Linked DNA regions of Homo sapiens: region 1 is linked to region 2. Evidence: fine-mapped expression QTL. A gene starts in region 2. The other region holds a variant in brackets. All regions are shown on one strand. Distances are between the middles of the regions. Region 1 overlaps TACC1 (transforming acidic coiled-coil containing protein 1). Region 2 holds the start of PLEKHA2 (pleckstrin homology domain containing A2).

Evidence for each region.
Region 1: its variant is fine-mapped to the expression of PLEKHA2 in whole blood (INTERVAL, PIP above 0.99).

The regions. Positions count from the first base shown.
Region 1 is chr8:38,837,509-38,842,884 of GRCh38, forward strand. TACC1 (transforming acidic coiled-coil containing protein 1) reads left to right here. Exons shown (of 13, transcript NM_006283.3): 8 at 962-1,038; 9 at 2,716-2,759; 10 at 4,779-4,939. Among named protein-coding and RNA genes, the nearest start is that of TACC1, 53 kb to the left of the region's middle. The variant A/G (reference allele first, on the strand shown) is at 2,410.
Region 2 is chr8:38,899,197-38,904,572 of GRCh38, forward strand. PLEKHA2 (pleckstrin homology domain containing A2) reads left to right here and starts at 2,150. Exons shown (of 12, transcript NM_021623.2): 1 at 2,150-2,249. LOC124901937 (a long non-coding RNA gene) reads right to left here and starts at 2,249. Exons shown (of 2, transcript XR_007060893.1): 1 at 2,017-2,249; 2 at 54-1,500. RefSeq lists enhancers at 562-751, 812-1,061 and silencers at 1,662-2,071, 2,152-2,821.

The DNA.
Region 1 (5,376 bases), 62 kb before region 2:
TCGAACTCCTAGGGTCAAGCGATCCTCTTGCCTCAGCTGCCTGAGTAGCTGGGACTGCAAGCACGCACCACTGTCCCTGGCCAAAATCTTGTAAATGAGAAAAATGACTTGATGTTTTTCCTGGGAGTTAAACTATGAGATCACCACCTAATGGATCAAAGTAAAGAGGTGCCTGATTACCTGAAGCACACAGGATACATCCTTCTATGTTCTTGAGATCCTAATAAATATAATGAAACTACCAATTAGGAAGAGAGCGGCACGGCCAGGGAAGTACAGTAAGAGGCTGCCCATGCAAGCCCAGCCCAGGGCAAATAGAGTTTGAGGCAATGAATTTAGAGTATTTCCTTCCAGTTAGCAAGAGCATCCCAAATATGAGCCTAGGTTCCAGGCTAACTAGCAAGACTCTACCCATAAGTGACGGATGCTATAGCTAGATGTAGCCAGCTCATCTGAGCCCCCTCCTTCTGACTCCATTTCTATGAAGCTGTCAGAAATCTCTATAGAAAGAGAATGTGTTGCTCATGCCAACTTCCAGTGGTCTGACTTTGTGGCAGTTTCACTCTGGTGGCCTGGCATCAGCCGTGATTACATGGCCTTAGTTAAGAGTGAATACCTGCCAATCAGATGGCTCTGTTCTTGGTGTCTGTCCCAGTCAGGGCCTGGCCCTGCAGAGCTGAGAGCTAGACCCTGGACCAAGGTAAAGTTCACAGAGGCTGTAAATACTACTTGGGATTTCTGAGAGATGTTCTACTCATCTTTATTCCCGTGTCTGCATCCCAGCATTCAGTGTGGCTTAGAATACACTTTTCCAAATGGTTACAAACATTTAATATTGAAGTTTATATTTCTAATATAGATTGAACATCTTGGGTTAGACCTGGTTGTGTGCTATTTCAGTTCCCAGTCTTAAATGCAAATTGTAATAGATTGGGTAAAACTAAGCTTTATTGTACTCTAGATAATTACTAAAGAGATTGAAGCAAATGAATGGAAGAAGAAATACGAAGAGACCCGGCAAGAAGTTTTGGAGATGAGGTTAGACTGGAGGTTTTGGGGAGGGGCTGGATACTTTTATGCACTGTTAGATTTGATACAGATGAAGTGATGACAGTGTTTGCTTGCCACAGAACCAAGTGTTGAGAGCTTGAGGGCTTTGCTGTTTGCACCTTGCTTTGTGATTGAGAATGTTATTTCAGGAGTTATTGCTAACCAGTTATTATATTCAAATACTGTAGTTTATCTTGGGTTGTTCAGAACATATAACATGTAAACAGAACCCACATAATTCTTATCTTCTTAGAACTGACAGAAATTTGTATCAAAATATCCATTTGGAATACAGAAAAATAAGATTTATCCAATGATAGAGACACTGAAATTCATAATACTACTTTTTTTTTTTTGAGGCAGGGTCTCACTCTGTCATCCAGGCTGGAGTGCAGTGGTGTGATCATGGCTCACTGCAGCCTCAACCTCCTGGGATCAACTGATCCTCTCCCCTCTGCCTCCCAAGTAGCTGGGACCACAGGCATGTGCCACCATGCCTGCATAATTTTTTTTAGAGATGAGGTCTCGCTCTGTTGCCCAGGCTGGTTTGTAACTCCTGAGCTCAAGCAATGCACCTGCCTCAGCCTCCCAAAGTGCTGGGATTGCAGGCATGAGCCACAGCGCCTGGTCCATAATACTTTTTAAAAATTAATTATGCATGAGAGTTTCAAATTACATAACCACCAAATAGATGATAGAAAGCTTGTTAACAAGAAACAAAATTGATTGACTTGAAATCGAAATCTTTTTATTTTTCCTCACTTTTAGAAAGGAGAGTTATGAGCCATGAAATGACTAAAGATGAAATCAAAGTAGAGAAGAAAAAAAGGCATAAATAATTCACACACAGTGTGGTCAACACTTGAATGATTAAAAAACATTTTAAGTATATCCCTCTAATTTGTTGCTCTTTTATTATTTGTCTTTTAAGCATTTCCTAGGTGTAAGGCCCTTTGCTGGGCTTGATGGAAAGGAAGGGACATTCCTGCTCTTAGAGAGCGGTAGCCATCCATAATAACCAACTTGGATATGACGTCAAAAGTGATGGGGGCACCACCATTGAGGGCAGGGGAGGACGTGATGCGACTCACAGAGCACCCAGCACCGGACTGGGTCAGAAGGACATTGTCATTCTTCACTAGAAGAAAGGTTAACCCAAGAGGTTGATCTTTAAAGTCTTTGAATAAGTGAAATACTTTTGGAATTAGGACACAAAATAAAACTTGTCACTGAATCAGAGGTAGAGTGTCTGAAAGGGTGGATTGACTCAGGAAAGTCTAAAGTCAGATCGCATCTGTTAGGAAGAGCCCAGAAGAATATCTTTAACTTAGTTTGTAAAAGATTGACTCATCTAAGCAG[A/G]ATGAATCTATTTCCTTGCAGTATTCAAATAGGTGCAAAGAGAAAGGGAAGGCAGTTGGTTCTATAAGTAAAATATAAGTTTGACTAAAGATAAAATCTTAACAAAAACCTTTTTAGAACCTTAAGAAACCTTATATAATGTAAAAAAAAAAAAAAAAAAAAGATAACGAGAGCCCCAAAGCAGATAAATGGATTACATACATTGTCAGTGTATGTTAATGTGTTTAATTGTTTGGGACAGCATTTCTCCAACTTTCATTGTCTGAAAATCCTCCTCTGGTAATAAGTTCTTTTTTTCTCATTTAGGAAAATTGTAGCTGAATATGAAAAGACTATTGCTCAAATGATTGGTAAGGAGAACATTTTGTTTTTTGAGGGTATGAGCCATAGGATCTGTCTTAGTCTGTTCAGCCTGGTATAACAAAATATGTAAGCTAGGTAGCTTATAAACAACAAACATTTTTCATAGCTCTGGAGACAGGAGAGTTCAAGGTGCCCACAGATGAGATGTCTGGGGAGGGCCCATTCCTCATAGAAGGGGCTGGCTAGCTCTCTGGGGTCTCTTTTATAAGGACACTAATCCTGACATAATCACCTCCCAAATTCCCTTCCATGCCCACTTTCACCCTGAACATACTCACACACTGGGGATTAGGTTTCAATACACAAATTTGGGGTTGGGGGGTGGCATAAACTATAAGACCATAGCCGGATCCATTTATGATTTTCAGACCATGTCACAAACTTGTATTTGTCTGTCACTTAGATACAGTCGTCTCATTATTCGTGGGAGGTATGTTCTGTAAAGTTGCTGCAAACACTGAGTTAGTGAATACTAAACACTGCTCCTGGCCTGGCATGGTGTCTCACGCCTGTAATCCCAGCACTTTGGGAGGCTTGGGTAGGTGGATCACCTGAGGTTGAGAGTTCGAAAACAGCCTGACCAACATGGAGAAACCCCGTCTCTACTAATAATACAAAATTAGCTGGGCGTGGTGGTGCATGCCTGTAATCCCAGCTACTCGGGAGGCTGAGGCAGGAGAATCGCTTGAACCTGGGAGGCGGAAGTTATGGTGAGCCGAGATCGTGCCACTGCACTCCAGCCTGGGCAATGAGCAAAATTCCATCTCAAAAAATAAATAAGTAAATAAACACTGCTCCTAGGGAAAAGACAGAGTTAGAGTCTTGCATCTGGCCACAACATTTTCATTGATTGATCAGTATATAACCTTGTTTTACGTGTGTTCCTGTTTAAAGACACCTTATTTAATATATATAGTTGATTCATTAACATTGAGCTCACAGTCAGCGGCACTTTGGCTCACGTCTGAACAGAGCTTCTGTAATGTATGTATTTTAAGGAACCTTACTGCCTTCTTGTGCTTGGTATCACTAGACAGCACTGTGGCACTGCCCTTGGAGGCCACTTAAAACAGTGAAGTCTCCGGCAAAAAGAACACAAGTGCAACAAACATGGCCTGAATAGACCAAAAGAAGAACACTTGTTTATAGAATGAATCAAGAAGGCAGAGTATTGCTTTGTTCACTGTCAGCTGAGAGCGTGCATATCAGGTGACTAAAGCATTTTTGCACTCTGCACACATCCACAAATGACTGTCAAAGTCCAGGAGGATAGATTTTAGGATTACAAATAAATTTTAGCAAGTAGGTGAATTGGGAGGTATGGACTTGGTGAATAATGAGGGTCAACTGTAGTTAGGTTCATTTTAGAAGATGGCAGGCCTTGAATTCTGTGACTGTTGGTGGCCTGGTCACATCACTAACACCCACTGGGAGCATCCTGTGTTTTGGTGCAGGGTTCTTACTCTAGTGCAGATTGTAATTTCTCTGCATCAGACCCAGCGGTGCCTTTACAAAACAACAGGGATTGATCCTCCTGCATGGAATTTAGAGTCTCTTCTCATCTATATCATAAGGATTGACTCCCTAAACCAGAGTCTGTCCTTTCTCCACTAAATTGCCGAAATGATACTTTCTATCATCCACATCACCTAATGCCTTCCCAGCTCAGGGCCTTACCACAGCTGTTCTTCTCTATGGAATATTCTCCCAGGTAGCTGTATGGCTCACATCCTCATTTCTGTCCGGTCTATGCTCAGATCTCTCCCTGAGAGCAGGTACTCTCTGTACAGTAACAGCCCCCTCCCCGCCCCCATTCCTCCTTACCCTGCCTTGTTCTTTCCCCATCACTTGTTACCACGCGTCTCCCCCAACTAGAGTATAAGCCATAAGAGCGGGAATTTGGTCACATCCCCGGCTGTGTCCCTACCACGAGAACACTGCTTGTCTTCTAAGGAGTGTCTATTTTTTGAATAAATATGTCATTCCTTTTGACTTGTGATTCCCAGAAGATGAACAAAGGACAAGTATGACCTCTCAGAAGAGCTTCCAGCAACTGACCATGGAGAAGGAACAGGCCCTGGCTGACCTTAACTCTGTGGAAAGGTCCCTTTCTGATCTCTTCAGGAGATATGAGAACCTGAAAGGTGTTCTGGAAGGGTTCAAGAAGGTAGAGTGTTTTTTCCCTCTGTCTCCTGGTGTATTTCCAGTAGTGTATTTCCTTGGTAACTGGTCATCAAATACATATGCCAGAGGTTGTGGGTATCCTTTTAAATAGGAGCTCAGGGCCTACTGGCCTTGTATCCTCTATTCCAGTGAAGCTGGATTTTTTTCCACATTTTTCCTTCTTTGGTTGTTCAGGCATCTGGCCCACTGGGTGCCATGTCTTGGCCATTCCTCTCCTGTGTCAAGCCAATAAGCCCCAGGCTGTGGCGTAGACTGCAAGAACTGTTAATTGAACCCTCAGACCTCAGGTGAATTCTAGAAATGTTCTTTCTGGTAATTCACCTTTTCAGTTTTAGTAAAAGGGATTAGAAGGAATTCCATGTCTCTGAAAAATTCAAGCTGCATATTCTAGAAGACATTAGTATAATGTTTCAAATTTAG
Region 2 (5,376 bases):
CAGGAAATACTTGTGGCTCTGTGATGGAGTGACTCAGGCAGCCCCACGGGGAGTAGAGTTTTATGAGTTTAATATGAACCATACCCTGAAATCTGAGAAATTTACCTCATTGCTCATGCTGGAAACCCTCAGTTCCAGTCGGATTTGCTTGGAGCTGGATGGAATTGTGTTGCTTTTCATACTGAAAATGATCATCTAATTTTTAAATTTAAAAAACATTTACGTAGCACCTACTTCACGTTCGACAGGAATCTCAACACTTCACAAATGTTAACTCACTGACTTTTCCTAACAGAGGCATTGAGAAGTTAAGTAACTTGCCCAGGGGTCAAAGCCAGTAAACGGCAGAGCTGGGCTTCAAATCCAGGTTCCTTGCTTCCAGAGGAGATGCTCTTCAGTTTGTTCTGGTGCCTGAAACTTACAGATGAGTGGCAAAACCCTCCATGAACGGGGAAAAAAAAGACATTGATGTATTTATTTCAAGGGAAATGTGTGTGTGTGTGTGTGTGTGTGTGTGTGTGTGTGTGTGTGTGTGTGTTTTGCCCATCGTCCCCCTTTTCTTCCTCATTGAAAGCAAAATGCTCTAAAGCAAACAGTCTTTTTTCACACCTGAGACACCGGCGGTGTTCATTTTTGCTTTGGCAATCAAAATGGAAGAGGAAACTTGTGTGGTTTCATCACTGGTGCTTTCGGGGTGTGTGGGGCGGGCTGTCCTTCTCCCTCGGTCCTGGCTCATCGGCCCGAGCCCCCCTCCCCAGGCCTTGTGGCCTCCGGTCGGTCGTGGAGACATAAGAGGCCGCCTTTCCTCTGTTAACACCGGGAATGTGCCCCAGCCTCTCCCTCCTTCCTGCAAATCCAGTCCTTGTCCTGGAGAACCTCAGCGTCTTCTTATGCCTGCCTCTTTCAAAGCCTCGTAGGATTTACACCTGATTAACAACGTTTGCATTAGGATCGCCAGACACCGGCGCACGGCCCCGCAGGCCCGCGCGAATCTTCTACATTTTCATGTTTCGGATGTTGTCCACCTGACTTGATGCATATTCAAATGTCTCTCTCCCGACGTGGGAGGCCGGAGTCAGAACCTGACAGACCTGCCGTTTACTAACTGGGTACCCAGGGCAAATTACTTCACAAGTCTGAGTCTCGGTTTCCTCACCGTGAACCGGACTGGTACCCATAGGTTGCGGCGTGGATCAAATGAGATAGCGCAGGGGCGGGACCCGCGCACAGCAGCTCTCTTAGTTCCTCTTGGCGAGGTTTACGTAGTAACACATGCTTGTCTGTTTCCCATTTTTTCCCAGAGCACCCTCATGCTCTGGGGGCAGGAAGGGAGTCTTCGCATCACACCGAAAAAGTCCCAACGGGCACGGTGTAGGCGCCTGTGGTCCCAGCTACTCGGGAGGCTGGGGCAGAAGGATCGCTGGACCCAGGAGGTCGAGGCTGCAGTGAGCTATGACTGCGCCACCGCACTCCAGCCTGGGCGACAGAGCCAGACCCTGTCTTGATTAAAAAATAAAATAAAATAAAGAAATTAAAGTCCTTATAACCCTGGTTAGAGCGTTCCCGCCCACTGGTCTCTTAGGGCACATTTAGGACAACCTGAAGAAGCCACTCTTCTTGGGACCCTAACCCTTACCCCAACTCCTCGGTCCCCAAAGGCTAAGGGCTCGGGATCCGAAGGAGGCCCAGCTGAGGTCGCTGGGTGGGGCTCTGGGAGGAGGAAATGGGGTTCTTGAGGGAGCTCGCGCTCCAGCTCGCCTCCTCCTGCGAGGACGCCCCCTGCCCGGACACCTGCTGCCCGAGCGAGCGTCGGGGCCGGGCCTCCCCGCGGGGCAGTCTCGGCGCGCAGGTCCCACCTGCCAGGCGCGGAACGCGGGCGGCCTCGGGCGCAGCCTCCGGGCGCCCCGCCCCCGCCTCCCCCGCGCGGCCCCGGCGCCCGGCCGCACCCCCTCCCAGCCCGCGGCGCCCCGGCACCCCTCTCCCTCCCCGGCGGGCTCCGCGGAGCATTGTACTCACATCCGGGGCTGGGTTTTGCTTTAATGCGAAACGTAATTAACCCGGAAAAAAGAGCCGAGGGACGGGAGAGAAGGAGGGGGCACTGGGGGAGACCAGAGCGAGGGGAGCGAGAGGCGCGGAGAGTTTGGCAGGCAGACCCAGAAATCCCTGGAGCGCGGCGGACCCGGCGGCCGGAGGGGCGACCCCGCCCGATGTAACGCGCCCCGCCCGAGCCCCGGCCCCTGCACGGGGGGGTAAGTTGGGCGCCCTCGCGGGCTCGGGAGTGGAGAGGCGCAGAGGGGCGCGCGGGGGCTGGCGGGGCTGGGGGTGCAGGGGGCGCCCCGGCGGAGGCCTGGCGGCCTAGGGGCGCGAGGGGCGCGCGCGCAGGGCTGAATACGCCGGTCCTAGTGGCTGACAGGCGAGGGGAGGTGGCCGCAGACCCTGGAGGCCTCCTCCAACCCTCTGGGAGAGCCCCGAGGGCAGCCCCTCCTCCAAGTGCCCCGGGTGGCCAAGGTCGCCGCCGCCAGGGGTCGGGCTGCGGGGGGTGGGGCCGCGGAGAGGGTGGGGGCGGGAGTTCTGCTGAGCTGCATTTTCTCACGTTTGCAGCAGCGAAACTTCTCTGCGGGTTCTGGCGCTGGGGCACCGACCCCGCAACGACTGCCCGGGCTGCGGGAGGGGAGGAGAGCAGAGAACGTCCCCAGGCAAGTCCCTTGGGTACGGATTGGGCCATGGAGACTCCTCTTTCACTCCCCCGACTACCTTATTAAATGACAGGCCTAGAAGGCTCCCCTAGGGACTCCTGTCCTTTCCTCTGGGTGCAGCCTGGACTTCGGGCTTCTGGAACTCCAGACAGTGAAAAGGACTGCCCTAAAATGCAGGTTCGGTGCCAGGTTGGGTGAGCCCTCGAGGGGAGCTGTCGTTCTCTCTCTCACCAACTTCTTCCTCACCTTACACGCTTCCCTTTTCTCCTCCAGTCCTAAAGACGATTTCACCAAAATTTTTTTAAAAAGAAAGAGAAAAGAAGGGTGTGGGGGGGGGTGGTGGGAAGCTAGGCCGTTTAGAAGGGAAAAGTGTCCCTGCACGCCCAGAGAGGGGCGCAGGGCCCGCTGCGGCCGGAGCACCCTCACATCTCCTCCCCGGGGCCAGCCCTGCCCCCAGGCCCTAGCCTTAGGGTTTGGCTTCCTTCCTTCTTGGTGAACGCAGGTTCAGGATGTATCTTCCCCTTCTCATTCCTTCTTCCTGCCCGCCCCCTTTCTTTCTTTAGGGCTCCAAGTGGGGTTTTCAGAGGACAGTAAACGGCAGAGAAGAGGGAGGGGAGAGCACCCCACCAGAAAGCCAGCTGTGGCTCTGGGGGCTCTGAAGGCTGAGCTGTAGATGCACTTGGGGCTGAAGTCCCAAGATTGCACTAATGGTGTTCTTAATCTATCTGACCAAGTCCCATTTTCCCTTCTTTTGTCATTTTTTTTCTTTGGTTGCGAAGCCTTCCGAAACAGCAAAGCAAAAGATCTTGAAAGAATAGAAGTTTTTGCTTTCTATTTCAGTTGCATTCAGTTGACATGTATTATACATGCAAGGCAGTGATGAACAAAACACAACCCCTGTCTTTATTTTTTCTTTTTCCTTTACCTCTGGAGGGCTGGACCCTGTCTTTGGCGAGCTTACAGGACTTGTAAGCCCCCCACTTGTTTTGAGAAGCCAGAGTAAGCTTTTAGAAAGCATCATCATCATCTCAGACATTAGCCCTCTTCACCATGTGCCGCCTGAAGGCAGATGACTTTTGCACTATCAGAGGTCTAGCTTGTAGTCTAGATTATGGCCAGCCCAACGTATGACATGTACCAGGTGCTAAGTAAATGTTTATTGCATTAATGAATGAATGCAAACACATGAATTGTTTGCACTTGTCCAAATGGCAGAGAAAAGAGCAGTGTGGTTGTTCCTCAAACCTGTAGGGATTTGGTTCTCCAAGCTGGTACATGGGAGTTATTAGTCCGGATGTTGCCTTTACACCTAAGTATCCTTTGACCCTGTTTGTACATTACAGCATGCTTTCTACAAATTGTCTATGGCACTCCTAGTGGGGTTTTAGCTAGCTGGTAATGGGAGCCTTGCTCATTTCACAGATTGGTAATTACCTTGGTATTGATTGAGAAACTGCCTGCCCTTTGGTGAAGAGTTTTTGCAACCCTTTCTTTTTCCTTGTCATTGGTGCTTTCTTCTCTCTTCTGTGTTAAGGAAATAGGGCCTGCAGATCCCATCATGTCATGGTAGTGAGCTGAACCATATTCAGCTCGGTATTTTTGAGTGGTTAAAATAAATCTTGAAGACATGCAGGTTTTGGTTGGTGCAGGTTTTTGTTCTGCAGAAGTGGGAAGGGGAAGGCTGATGAGCCCTATCAGCTGAGCCCCAGAGCAGCCCTCCCACTACCTTGCCAAGTGTTTGCCGAAGTGCTAGGATACTAGGAAGACCCAAGCAGCGTTGGTCTCCTGTCCAATTCATGGGACAGATGGACAGGTGGGTGATGCCCCTGCTGAAAGGCTGGATGACTCAGATGAGAGCTTGCTGCAGACCACAGTGCATCAGAATATCTCTTCTGATTCACGGAAACTGCTGTGGCTCGACTTATTCCGGTTGTGATAGACCTAGGGCTTGGAAAAGAGGATCTGGGTGCTGGGACGTTGGGTTGCTCTGCCCCCTCTCTTTTTCCACCATGAACAGTTTGGGTTGCCTTACTTTCCGTTTTCCATCTGTCTCAGTGAGCTGGATGGGACTCCAGCAATCTAATCTGGTAGGCTTTGGAAAGGAAGGAAGGAAAGCAAATATTATAGTGTGTTGGCCTATGGGAAGAGAAGAACCCTGGCCCTGCCTGATATGAGCCCATTATTGAGATGGGGTATTGGACAGGCGGGGGAGATAGGGCAGCTGAGAGGTGGGAGGGATGCGGCCCCATCCTGTCAGTAGAGGAGGCCGGGGGTTGGTGTAGTGAGACCCTACTGTTCCTTCTGAAAGCCCCTTCCCTGCCCTGACCCCAGTTGACTGAAGTGATTTGTTATGCATTAAAGCCGGAATTGGGCTTTCTCACTGTGGAGGTCCCAGCCCTGCTGGGGCAGGGGCTCCTGATATTGCCCAGTGTGGGCAAAAGGCTTGGGGGCTTTGGCCCTGTGGTGTGCCTTTTGCCCACAGTGCCTGGTCAGCTGAGATGAAGAGGATGGGAAGCTGGGTCCTCTTGTCCTTATGCTCTTGAGAAGCACTGCAGTTAAAGTGCGAAGGCTGGGACTCAAATTTGGCTGGCCCCTTGCAAAGCAGCTCTCTGCTGGTATGATTGCCCATGGCTGGATCAAGAGGCAGCTTGCCTTGGAAACTGACGAGCATGTCTAGGTT